Linked DNA regions of Homo sapiens. The protein of the gene in region 1 purifies or fractionates together with the protein of each later gene. This does not show direct contact. Each region holds a gene or a part of one and is shown on either strand. Other genes may lie near its edges.

What was found.
Region 2: the proteins of TMIE (region 1) and C2CD5 purify together in Homo sapiens (affinity purification with mass spectrometry; one large-scale study listed by BioGRID and IntAct). This does not show direct contact.

Annotation. Positions count from the first base shown.
Region 1 is NC_000003.12:46,707,858-46,711,621, reverse strand, and holds the end of TMIE (transmembrane inner ear expressed protein isoform 1 precursor), read right to left. Parts: intron 2,497-3,764; coding exon 2,347-2,496; intron 2,044-2,346; coding exon 1,934-2,043; 3' UTR 736-1,933; downstream 1-735. UniProt on the Homo sapiens protein: Auxiliary subunit of the mechanotransducer (MET) non-specific cation channel complex located at the tips of stereocilia of cochlear hair cells and that mediates sensory transduction in the auditory system.
Region 2 is NC_000012.12:22,474,964-22,478,729, forward strand, and holds part of C2CD5 (C2 domain-containing protein 5), read right to left. Parts: intron 3,515-3,766; coding exon 3,350-3,514; intron 1-3,349. UniProt on the Homo sapiens protein: Required for insulin-stimulated glucose transport and glucose transporter SLC2A4/GLUT4 translocation from intracellular glucose storage vesicle (GSV) to the plasma membrane (PM) in adipocytes.

The DNA.
Region 1 (3,764 bases):
CATAAAAGGCTAGTGGTGGCCCCATGTCAGGGGAAGGGCAGGTGGAGCCTAGGCCTGGACTTCCCCAGTCTTCAGCAACTGCTGCTCTGTGTGACCCTGAGTGGCCCCTACCCCTCTGGACTTCTGCTGCCTGGCCACATGGGAAAATTCTGCATAAATAGAATGGCCTTTTTCACCCCTATGTATGAGAAGCCCATGGGTTGGACCCCAAGGGCAGAGGTCGGTCAACTGCCTCCATCTGGTGTCAGAGTCCTCAGCTTCCATGGCGGGGCCTTTGGCCATGGCTCTGCCCCTCACTGCTCCTAAGACCCCATGTCATGCGCTTTCCTCATCAGCCTGGATCACTCTCCTCCCTGTACAGTGATGATCCAGGTCCAGGTCAGGAGCCAGGTTTGACTCTTCTGTGTCCCCAGCACTGGGCACAGACCATCACAGGTCTATTGAAAATCATGAATGCAGCCTTGTGAACTCAGCACCCAGAGAGCTGGCAGCGTCCCTCCCGAGTCCTGTGCCTGCCTCCGGGATGGGCCCAGGTGACTGCAGCTGCCCCTCAGCCTCTTGGCTCCCATTTCTCCCTCTATCTCATCCTAATTCAGGCTGGCAGAAGAGTCAGGGAGGGGACTTTGGCCTGGCCTGAGCCATCTGTCACTGACTGCTGCATCACCCTCCACATAAATGCCCCAGGAATAGCGCATCCTGAGGGGTCATCTCAGGAGGCCATTTTCTAGGCCTGGCTCTGAGAAGGCAATCAGCTTTATTCACAAATCTCTGCAGGCTGCTTTTCCAGCAGGCTCTCCTGGCTCAGAAACCTCTGGTGTCTCGAGACCTTAGTGTTCAGGCCTAGGTTTCAGAGCCTTAGTCTGTTCGATGCCATCTGGAAGTGCCTCTGTGCATCTTCCCTCCCCCAGGTGCTATTTGGGCCTTTGTCTTCTGGTCAGAGATGCTTCTTTTAGGTGCCCGTAGTGGGAAATGGTAGAAGAGGAAGCTGCAAAGAAGCTGGCACTGTTATGGTCAGCAGGCAGAAGGCCCTGCTGTGATCTTCTAGGGCCCTGGGACCTCCCAGCACAGCTGGGCATAGAAGGGGCCACCAGAACAGCCCGAGGTCCCCCTTGGCTTCTTAAATATACTCTGATTCCCAAGAGGAGCCCAGACTCCAGCTCTCTTTCCGGCACCCTCTAGCCCATTGGCCTTAGCTCTGTGTACCCCTGACCCAGCCCTGCAGCCCCCAGCCCCGAGCTCGAGCCTCGGGGCCTCATGCCGGGCCTGGCAGCAGCCTCAGCTTCATCACAACGTGTGAAATGAGGGTAGCCCATTGCCTTGAGCTTGATGTCTGCTGGGCTGGGGGTTCCATTTCTGAAGCCACCTCTACTTACTCCCTTGAGCTGGATCCCCTGCCAGGCTTGGGGAAGTCTTCTCACCACTGGGGCTCCTCCCTGGCCAGACAGAGTCCCTCCTGCTGCCACAGTGTCCCCCAGTGACCCTCTCTGCCTCCTCATGGCTACTCTGGGTGTGGCCTCACACCCTGACCCATGCACTTCAGCCATTTCGTGCCAGAAAGGGTGGCTGAAGTAACCCCATATCCCATTACTCCTTCACAGCCACTGCCATCCCTGGCAGAAAGGGTGGGAGACAGGCAGGTCTGGGTGGGGAGAGCAGTGTATCTGCAGAGGGACGGTGGCACCAGACCACCTCTGCCGAGACAGTACCCATGTGGATGGGGTGAAAGGAGCCAAGCCTAGGCTGGGGGGCAGGACACCTACGAGATTGTCTGGTTCCTGCCCCTGATGGGCCATGAGGATGTGGCCATGGGCCTCAGCTTCCCTCTCTGACCACAGCCTCTGTGGTCCCCAAATGAGCTCAGAGTCCAACATGCCTGGACCCCGGCCACGGCTTGAGCTCCAGGGCCCGCCAGCCCAAGCTGCCCAGGATGTCTTCATTTCTCTCCTTTCTTCTTCTTGGCCTCATTCTTCTCATCCTCCTCTACTTTGATGGCCACTGTGTCCACACTGTCCTTCTTCTTCTTCTTCTTCTTCTTCTTATCCTCTGTGGGGCAGGGGGAAGAGACCATGTGATAGTGGTGAGACAAGGTCCTGGGGTCTGACTGTCCTGAGGGGAAGAGCCCCAGAACCTCCTACACTCTGCCTTTTTCTTCCTTCTTCCTACTGGAGAATAGGCTCATCGTTCTATTTGCCTCATGCCAACCAATTTCTGTGCTCTGGTCTCCAGGGGCAGGGCTGGGGCCCCTCCCTGAACCTGCTTTGGTTGGAGCAGAGGAACAGGGTGACTCCAGGCAGCAGGACTGAGGAACTGGCTGGCGCAGCAGGGCTCAAGCCAGGGCCAACTCACCTCCTGGGACTTCTGTGAGCTCATTGAGGGGTGGCACAGTCTCCAGCTTGTCTGTGTACATCTTGGCTGCCTTTCGCTGCAGGTACCGGGCTTCGATCTCCTTCCGGGTCCGTGGCACACGACAGTTGAAGACACAGCACAGCGTGATGACTGTAGGGAGGACAGAGCAGGCTTGGCTGGGGCTGGGGTTCAGAGACCCAAGGAATGGCATCCGCCTTCCTTCAGGCCCGCCCCCATCCACCCACATGTGTCTCACCCACCAGACCCTGGCAGGAGGCTCAGCATCTTGACAAAACCCCTGTGGACCCTATGATGACCAAGGTGGCTTTCCTAAGCAGGGCTGACTTCATGCAGCTGCACAGGCCCCCGTGCTTGGAAGGGACCCTGGCTAAATTATGTCACCAGTCCTGGTCCTGAGGGTCTTTCTGACTAGACTGAGAGTCACTGGAGGGTAAGGCAGAGGTCTGCACCATGACTTAAGCCATAGCTTCCTGGGGGCCATCCAGCACTTCCAACCCAGGCCTCCGGGTGTGCAACTTAGCTTCTCCTTCCCACACCACTGAGAGCTAGGCCAAAGTTGCCTCAGTCATGAGAGGACGTGGCTCTGCATGTCCTCCTCAGCCTCCCTGAGGACATCCCTGGGCTCTCCCTGGCTAGGGCGGGAGCCCATGAGAGGGCACAGACCCTGCCCTGAGGCATTCACCTCAGACGGAGTTATTTCAGGAGTGGTTTTCCGGCTGAGGGCAGCTGCACCCACGCCAGTTGGGCCAGGTCATGGAGCTGGCCTGTCTAGGGATGGGTAGGGCAGGTTAGGGCTGCCAGGACCTGGCTGGACTGAGTTTATTTTCCTAAGGCCCCCACAGCCTGACCACCTTGGCCCCAGCCCTAGAGGAGGGGATGGAGCTGGTTCCTATTATAAATCAGATGACCAGACATAACTTCCTGGCAGACTCCTGGGGGCAGAAGGGCCCACGGAGGATTAACCAGGTCTATTTTGGGGAAGATGGATCAGATCTATGTAGCCTGGACTGGAGTACCTTCTGGGGTCATTTTATGCAACCAAGTCAGAACCCCTTCAGACAAATATTGTGGTCCTACTAGGTCTCACCCAGGCTCAGAATAAAAGAAAAAAATCAATGAATGAATGAATGGGATGATCTCAAAGCCTTTGCTGTTGGGAACAGGACTGGACTAGAGTGAATGAATTGGGGAGCCAATAGCATCCAGGCATACACTTGGAGGAGGGTGCTGCACAAGGGCCCCAGCTATAGATCCGACTGTCCAGGGGTGGACCTGAGCAGACAGCAGGCCTTATCCAAGAAGCTGGGTCCTGGATTTCTCCAGAACCTGTGTTCATGCCTGAGACTCGAAGTTGGTACCCAATCCTAACCCTCCCGGCTTAGGCCACCTCTTCTAGC
Region 2 (3,766 bases), on another chromosome or scaffold:
GTAGACACCTACCTGTGGAGAAAAAGCCTGTAAAATATACTCAGTGAAGTCCGTACTTAAGTATAACCTTTAAAACTAAACTTTTATAGCAGATATGGCAGCCTTAATGATACACGAATCAGAAAAATATATATAACTGTCACAGACATAACAAGATAAAACTGACATCTAGTGTACACACAGGACACTACAATGTGTATGGAATTGGCAGTCCTTACAGCTCTGAAATCCAGTACTGCTGTGTGTGCATATTTTCTATTCAGCATTATAAAAGTCCTAATAGGCCTTAAAAATTTAAAGACTTATGTTCCTAGAAAGAATTCTAATCTTTTATATATTTTCTTATCCACTTTCAAAGCTCCATATAGCAAAATGTGAAATATGATCAATGTATGAGTATGAATACATATATACTTATACTATGCACATATTTGCTATTCAATTTATTAAGCTAAATAAACATTGGTACTTACAATAATGATCTTTTTAAGGTCAGTGTATGGTGCAATACTGTATGGCTTAGTGAGCTTTTTGCTGTTACATAGCCAAAGATCACTAGGGGTTCTAAGTGTCTGTCGGCCACAAGGAATGCTGGAAGAATATGAATACGTGAACGCAAAAGCAAAAGCCATAGCCTATTGCTGATGCAACAGAATTGTCTTTTTAATAAACAAGGAAATTGTACATAAAATTTTTCAAAAATATATAGTTTTAAATGTTCATTGGTAGTATGCACCTTAGATAAAAGACTACCACTGCACAATTTCATAATGTAATGATCTATGGAGCACTTTCACATCAATTTATCTTATTTGTACTCCAAATTAATCTGCCCTCTATAAAGTTAACATTATAATAACTACAAAATGGAAAAGAGCTGTAATTCAGAAGTAAATTAGTAGTCTGCCTAAATTTGGAAAACTAGCAAGTGTAGAGCCAGTCTAGGTCAGTCTTTTGACACACAGTGCAACGTTATTCCCACTAGATACCACACTACTTTTTATAATTTTACAATAGTTTTAAATTCTGTTATGCCTTTGTTCACAATGCCACAGACTTAACAAATATAACTGTCTGGTATTTAATATGTTCTAGATTCATACTGAAATTTCATCACTAGTACTGTTATTCTGAGAGATGTGCATCTTATTTTGATACCTTTGATTATCTCCATAAAGCTTAAGTGGTACTACACCTTTGTATTAGAAACATTTTTTAATGTATTGACAAAAAATTTAAACAGCAGCATTTATTTCAGTGAGGGCTATCATCCTAAGAGAAGGAACACTCTGATCTACATATTCAGGGTGGACATAACACAACACTGTAATGTGTATAGTGGCCTGGTAATCAACCTTGTACACTGACTCTGTCAAAAAAAATGCTGAGAGATTATGCTAAAAGACTATAATGTAGTCAGTATCTACAATAAGGAAAGACATATTAGAAGATGCATAAACTGATGAGTACTGTTGTGAAAATACAGTCATCCTCAACACATGAAATTCATATATGTTAAAATTTTTAAAATCATAATAGATTTACTCCCTCCTTCCAAATGTAAACTGTATGACACATAGTAGCAGCTCAATAAGTACTGAATGGATGAAGTAACTTAATTCATAGTCTTATTTAAACACATCCCTGTCTCCAAAGGGCTTACATTATAGTAAAGGAAGACAGATATATAAAAACTAAGTACAATAATATGTAACAGTTTCTATACAAGTACATACAGGTACAACAAGTACACAATGGAGGAAGAGTCCATTCTTCCTGTTAGAGGTCAGGATGGATTTACAGAGGTGAGAAACACTATTAAGTAAGTAAAAAAGTTCAGCTCATATCATTAGAAATAATAAATGAAGAATATATGAAACCCTAACACAAAGCTTTACAAATCATTTTTCCCAAGTGGCATACTATAAACAGATGTTCAAATATCAAAATATAACTACCAAATAAAAATAATGTACTATAAAAATAAGCAGTCAGTAGAGTGGTGCACAGAGAACTTTTACAAAGTCTATTTTTCAAATATGAATATGTTAACACATCAACATTTGCATTCATTTTAAAGAAGCCCTAAGTCAGTATTGTTCAATAGAAATATAAAGCAAGCCACATACATAATAAAGTAAAAAGAAACAGATAAAATCCATTTTAATAAAACATTTTATTTCATTCAGTATATCCAAAATATTAAATTTTTGACACAAAATCAATACAAAAATATTCATATTTTACACTACTTTTTCACAGTAAATCTTTAAAATCCAGTGTATATTTTATACTTACTACACATTTCAATTCAGACTAGTCACAAGTCCTCAAAAGTCACATGTGGCCAGCGGCTACCACAGTGAATAATGAATAGTGCAGCTGTAGGTCATAACCTTAAAATTCCTCCCAAATTAACAACTATGCTAGAATAATATGATGAAAGCTATACATGTGACGCAACAATCCAGACACACTGTTCCAGAAGACCAGCCAAAATTAGATAAGACGTTTAAAATAATAAAAGCAATAATGTTATACTTTCTTTTTTTATTTTTTTAATTATACTTTAAGTTTTAGGGTACATGTGCACAATGTGCAGGTTTGTTACATATGTATACGTGTGAATGTTATACTTTCCTTTTGTGAAAGTCTTTCATTATCAGAGACTCATAAAAACAAATAGTTTCATTCTAATTCCAACCCATTTTTCTTTCAATTCAGACTCTTGCCATCAGTCATCCACAGAGGAGGCAGCATTGTGATACTTATTGCAAAGTTGGTAAAAAGACTGATTAAAGGAAATGACTGGGAGCAAATTTGTAAAAAAAGAAACTGTAACTGAAAAACTATATTCTTTCACATTTTTACCACCAATAAGAATCTCTTTTTACTAACAAAGAACATTTTAAACCATTTATTTCATCATTCAACAAATACTAAGAGACTACCACCAATAGGAACTTTTCTAGGCAATAGAAACAAAGCCCTCATGAAGCTTCATTCTACCAGTACTAACAGGCAAAAGACCAACAAAACACACACACTCACACACACACACACACTCACACACACACACACTCACAAAGATAAGAGCTATAGAAAACAATAAAAGAGGGAAAAGTCATAGGAAGTGGCAAAAATGAAGTCACAATTTTTAAATAGGATCGTTAGAGTAGGCTTACCCGAAAAGGAGACAGTTGAGCAAAGACATAAAGGGAGGTGAAAGAATGAGTAATAAGGAGAGCTAAACAGTGAAAAAAAAATCTTGTGTCCTCAATAAGATAACCTAAAAATATACTAATAAACAATAACTGATACATTCACAATGTAGGTTTGTTTTACTTACTGGAGGATTGATTTCATATAACTCTTTGTTTTTAGCAATTGTGTCATTTATCTTCTTCTGCATATGAGAGATGTGTTGTTCATATGAGCCATCATTAGGAGTCTTCCCAGCAATCTGAATACCACCAGGAGTTGGTAAAGCTGCTAAATACACACCTGTGGCAGACTTGTAAAAAATAATGGGGAAATAATCAGAAAAAATATCTACAGAATAACAGTCCTTAAGTTTTCATATTTAAGAATGTGGTCAACAGCTGGGTGCAGTGGCTCACACCTGTAATCCCAGTACTTTGGGAGGCCAAGGCGGGCAGATCACTTGAGGTCAGGAGTTTGAGACCAGCCTGGCCAACAAGGTGAAACCCCGTCTCTCCTAAAAATACAAAAATTAGCCAGGTGTAGTGGTGTGTGCCCATAATCC